Homo sapiens: one gene and its partners. The protein of the gene in region 2 purifies or fractionates together with the protein of the main gene of each other region. This does not show direct contact. Each region holds a gene or a part of one and is shown on either strand. Other genes may lie near its edges. The genes, in order: KIFBP, MMP13 and CS.

Region 1 (3,500 bases), on a different chromosome or scaffold from region 2:
GTGCCCGCCACCATTCCCAGCTAATTTTTGTATTTTTATAGAGACCGGGTTTCACCATGTTGCCAGGCTGGTCTCAAACTCCTGACCTCAAGTGATCCGCCCACCTCAGCCTCCCAAAGTGCTGGGATTACAGGCATAAGCCACCATGCCCAGCCTCGTACCTTGGCATTTTAACTTTCTTCCTGAAGTACTAACAAGAGCAGAGTGCCACAAAACCAAATAGAGATATTAGTCTACCCTTTCTTGCTTTTAGGCTCACAGTCTTATATGTGAAATTGTTAATTTAAAATGTAAGGTCTGAGGCCAGGCACAGTGGCTCACGCCTTTAATCCCAGCACTTTGGGAGGCTGAGGTGGGTGGATTGCCTGACTTAGAGGTTCAAAGATCAGCCTGGGCCACATAGTGATACGCTGTCTCTACAAAAACTAAAAAAAAATTAGCTGGGTGTGGTGGCGTGTGCTTGTGGTCCCAGCTACTTCGGGGGCTGAGGTGGGAGGATGGCTTGAGTCCGGGAGGGCAGTCCAGGAGGTCAAAGCAGCAGTGAGCGAGGATCCTGCCACTGCACGCCAGCCTAGGTAACCAAATAAGACCCTGTCTCAAAAATAAGTAAAATAAAATGTAAAAGCTGAACACGGTGACTTACACTTATAATCCCAGCACTTTGGGAGGCCGAGGTGGGAAGATTGCTTGATGCCAGGAGTTCAAGACCAACATGAGCAACAAAGCAAGAACCCGTCTTTACAAAAAAAAAAAAAAAAAAAGTTACTAAGCATCAATAGTATTTCATTAAAAATAGTATTTGTATGGAAACATAACACATATAGTGAAATTCCTTGTGTTTAGTTGTACCTCTGTTTCAGTTAAGAGACTGATTTGACTGTATTAATATTACGTATGATGTGTGAAAGCCATAACAGTGAAGTATGTACATAAAATAATATATTGATTAATTCCCCTCATCTAGACAGGGGTAAGCATGGTAAGCAGCCCTCGGAATTGTTGAAGAGTTCTCTGAAGAATTACTTATCTATTGTGTTTGCCTTGGGCCTTGCTTCCTGTCTTAGTTGTTTTTACTTTATGTGAATCCTGGGAGCCCACGTTGTGATGCTTTTAGTGTTTACATCCAGAATGTAAAATCATATTTTTATGAAAGACGTTGTTCCTTTTTGAGTTTAATGAATTCAGTTAAAAGCAAGAGTGTGTTTCTAGATGGGACTATCCTCATAGAAGTAGAATGAGGCAGAGGTTAGGTAGTTCTGTTTTGGAAGACGTAAGAGGGGGTTGTAAGTGATTTATAAATATTACTTAATCCTCATGAGATAGATACTGTTATTACCCTTATTTTATAGATGACTAAACAGAAGCACAAGAGATCAAGTGACTTGCCCAAGGCAATAAATAATGGAATCTGGTTTTAATGTCCCTGTATTGAAAGGGGGTAATACACTTTTGTTATTTCCTTGAGAAAAAAATATTAGAATAAATATTAAAATCTCTCATTTGATTTTTATTAGTGGTCAGTTTAGAATACTACTACTGTAGAAATATATACATTTTTCCTATTTGTTTTGCTTATGCATGTTTTTAAAAGAGCCCTTTTACCAGACAAAATTGCCATTTGAAATACTTAAAGAGGGGTCGGGCACGGTGGCTTACACCTGTAATCCCAGCACTTTGCGGGGGCCGAGGCAGGCGGATCATGAGATCAAGAGATTGAGACCATCCTGGCCAACATGGAGAAACCCCGTCTCTACTAAAAATACAAAAATTAGCTGGGGGTGGTGGCACGTGTCTGTAATCCTAGCTACCCAGGAGGTTAAGGCAGGTGAATCGCTTGAACCCGGGAGGCGGAGGTTGCAGTGAGCCGAGATCGCACCACTGCACTCCAGCCTGGCAAAAGAGCGAGACTCCATCTCCAAAAAAAAAAAAAAAAAAAAAAACTTAAAGAGGCTGGGCACCTTAGCTCATGCCTGTAGTTTCAGCACTTTGGGAGGCTGAGGCAGGAGGATCACTGGAGGCTAGGAGTTCAAGACCAGCCTGGGCAACAGAGCAAGACCCCCATCTCTAAATAAATAAATAAGAATTAAAAAAAGAAAAAATACTTCAAGAATTATATATGTCTAAAAGCAGATTGGTGGATTTTTTGCATATTTGCAGTTTAACTGCAACAACAGTAAAATTTTGTCAAATGTGAACTTTTGACATTTGGTTAAAACAAATAAAAGGGTATCTTTTATTTGTTTGACTCAGATTTTATGGTTAAGAAAATTACTTGTTGAGGCGGGTGCAGTGGCTCACGCCTATAATCCTAGCACTTTGGGAGGCCAAGGCAGGTGGATTGCTTGAGCCCAGGAGTTTTAAGACCAGTCTGGGCAACATAGCGAAACCCTGTCTCTACAAAAAATATAAAAATTAGCCAGGACTGGTGGTGCACACCTGTGGTTCCAGCTACTCAGGAGGCTGAGGTAGGAGGATTGCTTGAGGTGGGAGGATCGGGAGACGGAGGTTACAGTAAGCCGAGATTGTGCCACTCCACTCCAGCCTGGGTGACAGAGACCCTGTCTCAATAAATAAATAAAAATTTAAAAAACAGAAAATTACTTCTTGAGTAACATAAAAATGAACTAGGAAAAAATGAAATGTATTTGGCTTGTAGAAGTTGATTTCTCCAGGTCCTCCAGAAGAGGGCACTTGGTGTTTACAGTTTAAAACTTTAAAGAGCTTTTGTTTTTCTTAATTGTAGGTTGGGAGTCCTCCTCTTGATCCTACTGAGCGTTTTCTTCCTGAAGAAGAGAAACTTACTGAACAAGAGAGATCAAAAAGGTGAGTAGGTATAGAAATCAGCCCTTGCAAATATTTCCACATATCATAGATTAGTGATTGTTCAAAAAGTCACTTATAAAGGTTATAGAATGTGGATTCTGACAGGAGTAAAACCTCCATTTACCACTTACTTGTTATTTGACCTTGTTCAAACCTGAGACTCAGTTTCCTTATCTGTCAAATAGATACAATAAACAAATCCAACTCAAAGGGTTGGTGGGATAATCAAAATAAATATATATGAAATTTACTTATAAAACGTAAACCATGGTCCGGACACGGTGGCTTACACCTGTAATCCCAGCACTTTGGGAGGCTGAGGCGGGTGGATCACAAGGTCAGGAGTTCAAGACTGGCCTGACTATTATGGTGAAACCCCGTCTCTACCAAAAATACAAAAATTAGCCAGGCATGGTGGCAGGCGCCTGTAATCCCAGCTACTCGGGAGGCTGAGGCAGGAGAATTGCTTGAACCCAGGAGGCGGAGGCAGTGAGCCAAGATCGTGCCACTGTACTCCAGCCTGGGCAACAGAGCGAGACTCTGTCTCAGGAAAAAAAAAAAACAAGTAAACCATTACACAAATATTGGTTTATTTTTTCTTTACAGATTTGAAAAGGTTTATACTCATAACCTATATTACCTAGCTCAAGTCTACCAGCATCTGGAAATGTTTGAGA
Region 2 (3,829 bases):
ACTACTAACTGATCTCATTCAACATTCAGTTTCATTTTGCTCTTGTAAATACAACCATCATCTTGTCTGTTTCATGCTGTTTGGAGTAAGAGTCTGTCTAGGTTTTTAAGAATAGTGTTTACAATATATAGACAAGACTGAATCAAGCAACTCATATAATGGGAAACAGAAATTTGATTGAACATATTTCTACCAAGCAAAAAACTATTTCAATTCACATCTAATTCATGTATGACCCATAGATCCAGCCCTGGTAGTTTTTAGTTAGATATTTCTAATAAACTGTACTTCCTCAACATGCCAAAAGGTAATTTGCAGTAATAACATGTTGGCTGACAGACATAAACATTTTGGTCCTACTTCAAAGTTCATTAGTATCCCTCAAGCCACAGTGACAGATTAAGTAGATTTTGTTCATTTTTTAATGTTGATATCAATTTGTAGAAATGTCACTTGTAGAGACACTAATACATCTAAGATAAACTTTATTTAAGAAAATATAGTCAAATACCAAATATATTTAACTTTTATGTGTTTTAACTTCATACTAGTGTGTTCACTGTCTAATCTAATAACACATAAATGATATCTTTATAAGAAACATTACCTTTGGAACTACTTGTCCAGGTTTCATCATCATCAAAATGGGCATCTCCTCCATAATTTGGCCCAGGAGGAAAAGCATGAGCCAGCAGGCCAGAGGGCCCATCAAATGGGTAGAAGTCGCCATGCTCTACACACAAAAGCAAGGGTTAGGAGTCTTATCACATCCAGGAGTACTTAGCACAGGTGTTTGGTAAATTAGTGTTGAATTCTTTAAAAAGTAATGAATGACTGAAATAAATAATTTTAAAATGGAACCAAGAATTAGAATATAAAAATGTTTGTAAAATAAATGTGCATCATTACCCTTAATTCCAAAAGAGATCATGATGTCAGCAATGCCATCGTGAAGTCTGGTAAAATTCAGAGGAGTTACATCGGACCAAACTTTGAAGGCTTTTTTGAATGCCTTTTCGACTTCAGAATGAGTCATATCAGGGGTGTAATTCACAATTCTATTTAACAGAGAAAGTTTCAATGAACTTTTTGGAAAGTGACAGCTATTTTAGAATACATTTTCTTGGTATATTGCTTTTCAATTCAAAATGCAATAATTTCTTTGAAAGTTCTACTAGAGGTTTATTGTTTCAAATAATGTATTAATTATGATGCCATACAAGAATAAAAAGTCAAAAATTCAGCCACATTTGAGTATCTCCAAATATCTGACCATGTGGCATCTTAAATTTAAAATATTCCAATGTTTAATATAATTTATTTTGCATGCTAAAAGTTTAGATTACATTGATAAAGCTCAAATAAATGAAATAGCTCTGTAAAGTTTCTAGAAAGAGTGGAACTCTTCATCTTGAGCACTGTTGTAATAAATACACCTAATGTACTATGTTTGCAAATTTTCTTTAACCTACTTTTATTTCTCTTTTGATTTCATCTCTAAAAGAAATACTTTGAGATGCCCACTAAAAAATAATGCTGAGTTAATGTAACAATAATAGATGTTATGAGGTATTCTCGGCAACCATATTAAAGCTATTCTGGAATTTAACTGCCAATTAAATAATAAGGCCTACTTAATATTAGACATTTAATACTACAAGAAAAGGCTAACAAATATGAAAGAAAGATAGCCTATGATTTACCTGTAGGTTAAATTCATTTTGGACCATTTAAGAGTTCGAGGGAAAACATTGTATTCACCCACATCAGGAACCCCGCATCTTGGCTTTTTCATGACATCTAAGGTGTTATCGTCAAGTTTGCCAGTCACCTCTAAGCCGAAGAAAGACTGCATTTCTCGGAGCCTCTCAGTCATGGAGCTTGCTGCATTCTCCTTCAGGATTCCCGCGAGATTTGTAGGATGGTAGTATGATCTCAGGTAGCGCTAGAAAAGACACCAAAATGAACTGCGTTTAAAAGAGAAGGACATTTCTGAGATGTACCAACCGCATCATCAGGATTGGCAAGATACTCTACCTCTGCAAACTGGAGGTCTTCCTCAGACAAATCATCTTCATCACCACCACTGGGAAGGGGCAGGGCCCGACAATGAGTCCAGCTCAAGAAGAGGAAGGCAGCCAGGACCCCTGGATGCATCTTGAATGGTGATGCCTGGGGACTGTTGTCTTTCCGCAGAGATTACCTTTACTTTTATAGGCCTGCAATGGTGAGTCATCACTTATGGATAGGTTTCCACTTCCCAGTCACTTGAAGGTAAACATGCTTACGTGGCGACTTTTTCTTTTCCCTCCCGAGTGTGGTTTGTGGTAGAATTTGAGGGAAATATAAATGAGAGCATCTCTTGTTTCAGCAGGGTCTCAAAACCCATCTGGCAAAATAAACGGCCTCAGCATATTTATGGATACTGTGGGAAGAAGCAGAGAGTAGTACATTTTTTACTTCACTTAGCAAAATTTTTTTTTTTTTGCCTTCTGTAAGAACGTATCTACTTTTGCTTCTTCGAATAATAAGTGTATCAAGATGGCATGTTTACTTCCATAAAGAGAAACTTAGTACTGATTCTAGAATGTTTACTACTGCCTGGTAAATTATAAACTGCATTTTCTCTAGAATAACTACAGAGAGATGTCTTGTGTCTACCTGAAGTTCACGATATTGGACCAAAACCAAGCTTGATGACTTGGAGGTGCTACGGCACAACCGCAGGATTGAGCCCCATGGTTGGAATTTAAACACACTGGCATGACCTCTCGACAAATATGGAGTCCTGCATAAATTCCCTACAGATTCAGACAGAGGTAGAAGAATTACATTGGAACGGAACAACTGTAATGGCTAGCACAAACAGGGATTACTGCATTCTAGGTTTAAAAGGCATTATCTCATTTAATCCTTACAACAGCCACATAGGTGCTGTCAGAAAGCTTGTTTTCCATTTTACATATGAATAATCTGATACACTGAGAAGTTAAATACTTGTATACGGTCATATAGTTTATAAATGATACCAGGATTTGAACCTAGGCCAATAACTCAAAACTCAATGTTCTTGACCACCGTCCCTGTCTAATTATGACCTCCACCCTTTCCATTCTCAGATATTTTCTTAAAAGCTGAGCTGTTTGGTTCCTACACCTCAGGGAGTGCCCAAGAAAACTAGGGCTGCAGTAGGCCAATTTCAAGTTTCTCAATTTTTAAGTTTGAATAATAGAAGTAATCTTGGTCCAACCATCAGGAAAATAGTCCTAGGGGCCTCTACCCTATTATTCCTTTCAGAACATCACACATTCAGTACCGTGAAATCAAAGTGCCATCTTTGGTCCCCTGCAGAAGTAAATGGGTAGAGCAATATAGGCCATGATCTTTGGATTTATTGGACTTCTTTAAATAAATGATTGGAAATGCAGGTTAATTTGAGTGACTAAGAGTCAGAAAGAAAATGCTGCTCAGGTCAGGAACATAGTAAGACAAAGAGAAGGAGCATGAATACAGCTTTAGGGTGAGTACGAAATGGGTATCCTAACATATGAGTAAAATCCTATAATCTAGAGTAGCCAGTGCCTTAGAGAAAAATCAGAAAAGCCTACAACATGTATGTGATCATTTGAGGGAAATTTACTATATGCCTTTATCCAAACAAAATACAGCCAAATATACCCTTTCAAATAGATTGTTTCCAGTGAGTTCAAGATTAGATTGGTGCTCAATCAGGAATGCAAAGCAATAATTTATTTTAAGTTGCTTCCATGTATCATAATATTTAATTTTGAGATTAAGTGAAAAATTATCCAAAAAAGTTTGATTCATC
Region 3 (3,729 bases), on a different chromosome or scaffold from region 2:
CTGAGCGCGGTGGCTCACGCCTGTAATCCCAGCACTTTGGGAGGCCGAGGTGGTGGATCACGAGGTCAGAAGTTCGAGACCAGTCTGGCCAACATAGTGAAACCCCATCTCTACTAAAAATACAAAAAATTAGCCGGGTGTGTTGGTGTGCACCTGTAATCTTAGCTACTCAGGAGGCTGAGGCAGGAGAATAGTGTGAACCTGGGAGAGGGAGGTTGCAATGAGCTAAGATTGTGCCATTGCACTCCAGCCTGGGTGACAGTGTGAGACTCCTTCTCAAAAACAAACAAACAAACAAAAAAACATAAAATCTTCCGGGCACTGTGGCTCATACCTGTAATCCCAGCACTTTGGGAGGCTGAGGCAAGTGGATCATTTGAGGTCAGGAGTTTGAGACCAGCCTGGCCAACGTGGTGAAACCCTGTCTCTACTAAAAAACTACAAAAATTAGCTGGGCATGGTGGCGGGTGCGTGTAGTCCTGGCTACTCGCGAGGCTGAGGCAGGAGAATCGCTTGAACCTGGGAGGCGGAGGTTGCAGTGAGCCAAGATCAAGCCACTGCACTCAGCCTGGGCAACAGAGCAAGACTCGGTCTCAAAACAAAACAAAACAGAAAGTCAGCTGGTTGCAGTGGCTCATGCCGGTAATCTCAGCACTGTGGGAGACTGAGGTAGGAAGATCGCTTGAGCCCAGGAGTTCAAAGCCAGCCGGGGCAACATAGCAAGACCCCCGTCTCTATAAGAAAAGTTTAAAAGATAAAATTAGCTGGCCGGGCGCGGTGGCTCACGCCTGTAATCCCAGCACTTTGGGAGGCCGAGGCGGGCAGATCACGAGGTCAGGAGATCGAGACCATCCTGGCTAACACAGTGAAACCCTGTCTCTACTAAAATACAAAAAATTAGCCAGGCGTGGTGGCGGGTGCCTGTAGTCCCAGCTACTTGGGAGCCTGAGGCAGGAGAATGGTGTTGAACCTTGGAGGTGGAGCTTGCAGTGAGCTGAGATCGCACCACTGCACTCCGGCCTGGGTAACATAGCGGGACTCCGTCTCAAAAAAAAAAATTAATTAAATTAAATTTAAAAAAAAATCACCACAGCAAACAACCACCCTCAATTAAAAGGTCTCCTGCTGGGCTGATGTAGTCTCTGGGACATGGGGCCTCTCTAGTAGGGAATCTGTGGGACTCTAAACCATGGAATAGCTTGAACAAGGTTAACTCTGTAGAACAATAGTTTGAACTTATTAACATGTTTTCTTTGCCCACTTTTTTTGTGAAAGAAAGGGCAAAGTTACATCTTCAGTGCTGGGTTCAGCTTCCTGTTTGCCCATGTAGGGTGCAAGGGCTATGAAGGGCTGTTTGTGCTGCCTATTTTCTTGCTCAAGTGATCCTCAGTAAGATAGAGGAGACTCTTGAGGAAGTTAAGAAAAGGAGTTAAGGACAGCCCTGGTAACAAGTTGAGGTGTTCCTCGTTTGCTTTAGGAACATACTGGCTTGGTCTATGCTCTCTGAATTTACCTTTGGATTGATTCTTTTAAAAGTAATCTTTTCTGTCTGGGTGCAGTGGTGCATACCTGTAATCCCAGCACTTTGGGAGGCTGAAAATGGAGGATCACTTGAGCCCAGGATCACTCGAGGCCAGCCTGGGCAACAGAGCAAGACCCCATCTCTACAAAAAAAAATTTTTTTTTTTTTAATTAGCTGGGCTTGGTGATGTGCGCCTGTAATCCTGGCTACTCAGGAGGCTGAGGTGGAAGTATCACTTGAGCCCAGGAATTGAAGGCTACAGTGAGCTATTAACATGCCACTATACTCCAGCCTGGGGGAAAGAGTGACCTTTCTGAAGGGCCTCTTTTCATTCCTCCTCTCCGTCCCAACAGAAATAGGGGAACTAAATTTTAAAAATTCTAAAAATCTGGGAGGCCGAGGTAGGCGTATCACCAGATGTCAGGAGTTTGAGACCAGCCTGGACAACATGATGAAACTCTGTCTCTACTGAAAATACAAAAATTAGCCAAGCATGGTGGCGTGTGCCTATAATCCCAGCTACTCAGGAGGCTGAGGCATGAGAATCACTTGAACACGGGAGCCAGAGATCACGCCACTGCACTTCAGCCTGGGCGACAGAATGAGACTCCATCTCAAAAAAAAAAAAAAAAAAAAAAATTCTAAAAAGCCTTCAGCCCTATAGAACTCTCACCCCAGGCAGGTAGCAATTTTTTGCACAGAGAGCAGTGCAGTAGTTACTAGAAAAGGTGCCTCTGGTCTTTTGACAAAAGGACAGGTGCAGCCTTGCTCCAGGATTAGTTTATTTCTGTGTGTAATCTTCTAAGTCTGCAAAGCACTTTTATATCCACTGTAATTTAGTTATCATGGGACTATTCTGTGAGGTGTGTGGTGAGTATTAGAGCCATTTTATAGAGCAGGAAACTTAGGCTTAATTTGATTATCTCAATTTGTTTTCAAAATCTAGTACAGAAAAATTAATTTCCTTGCCTCAGGCCGTATTCCTAGTTAGTAACCTGATTGGTCATCTTATTTCAAAGTTGGTGTATGGCCTGGCATGGTGGCTTACGCCTGTAATCCCAGTGCTTTGAGAGGCCGAGGCAGGCAGATCACCTGAGGTCAGGAGTTTGAGACCAGCGTGGCCAACATGGTGAAACCCCGTCTCTACTAAAAATACAAAAAAAATTAGCCAAGCATGGTGGTGCATGCCTGTAATCCCAGCTACTCAGGAGGCTAAGGCAGGAGAATCACTTGAATCCAGAAGGCTGAGGTTGCGGTGAGCTGAGATTGTGCCATTGCACTCCAGTCTGGGCAACAAGAGTGAAACTGTCTCAAAAAAAATAAAGAAAAGGAAAAAGAAAACTCACAAAGTTGGTGTGGAACTTTTATTGCAACTTAACAATCTTCTCACAGATGTATTTTTTATTTGAGGAAAAAAGAAACTACCTGTACACACAGAAAAGCATAAACTAGCTAAACTATTTTCTCTCTCTCTCTTTTTTTTTTTTTTTTTTTTTTTTTTTTTTTGACAGAGTCTTGCTCATTTGCCCAGGCTGGAGTGCAGTGGCACAATCTTGGCTCACTGCAACCTCTGCCTCCAAGGTTTAAGCCATTCTCCCACCTCAGTCTCCTGAGTAGCTGGGATTACAGCTGCCTGCCCATACCACGCCTGGCTAATTTTTGTATTTTTAGTAGAGAAGGGTTTCACCATGTTGGCCAGGCTGGTCTTGAACTCCTGACCTCAGGTGATCCACCGCCTCAGCTTCCCAAAGTGCTGGGATTACAGGCATGAGCCACCGCGCCCAGCCAAACTAATTATTTTCTTTTGACACTCTTAGAAACTTTGCAAGTTTCCATTTCTGCTAATGAGTAGTCTTCTGTCAGCTTCTTTGTAGATAATCTTTGTGCTTTTTCCAGGAGGGTCAGAAGTACCGTTATGAAAGGCTGCCCTCTGCCTGTGGTCTTTCCCAGATTAGAGAGGTTGAAGTGCTGTCGAAAGACCAGGTGCAGGAGAGATCTTACCAGCAGTGTTAAGTAATTGCTCAGTTTCCTCATTTGTTTTCCTTGGGGTCACTCAAAAATATTGATAACCGCCCTGCTCTGGAGCCCAGATGATGGGAAAGAGTCTGTCTTCAAGGAATGCTAGTGAAGCTATGGATGAAAAAAAGCAGTTAAACCTCCTGCTGTCTCCATAGTGGTAACTCCTTCCAAACTGTTTGGGGACTTTT

Evidence for each region.
Region 1: the proteins of MMP13 (region 2) and KIFBP purify together in Homo sapiens (affinity purification with mass spectrometry; one large-scale study listed by BioGRID and IntAct). This does not show direct contact.
Region 3: the proteins of MMP13 (region 2) and CS purify together in Homo sapiens (affinity purification with mass spectrometry; one large-scale study listed by BioGRID and IntAct). This does not show direct contact.

The regions. Positions count from the first base shown.
Region 1 is NC_000010.11:69,002,303-69,005,802, forward strand, and holds part of KIFBP (KIF-binding protein), read left to right. Parts: intron 1-2,743; coding exon 2,744-2,823; intron 2,824-3,429; coding exon 3,430-3,500. UniProt on the Homo sapiens protein: Activator of KIF1B plus-end-directed microtubule motor activity. Required for organization of axonal microtubules, and axonal outgrowth and maintenance during peripheral and central nervous system development.
Region 2 is NC_000011.10:102,953,549-102,957,377, forward strand, and holds the start of MMP13 (collagenase 3 preproprotein), read right to left. Parts: upstream 2,185-3,829; 5' UTR 2,158-2,184; coding exon 2,038-2,157; intron 1,946-2,037; coding exon 1,704-1,945; intron 1,059-1,703; coding exon 910-1,058; intron 734-909; coding exon 608-733; intron 1-607. UniProt on the Homo sapiens protein: Plays a role in the degradation of extracellular matrix proteins including fibrillar collagen, fibronectin, TNC and ACAN.
Region 3 is NC_000012.12:56,286,779-56,290,507, reverse strand, and holds part of CS (citrate synthase, mitochondrial precursor), read left to right. Parts: intron 1-3,729. UniProt on the Homo sapiens protein: Key enzyme of the Krebs tricarboxylic acid cycle which catalyzes the synthesis of citrate from acetyl coenzyme A and oxaloacetate.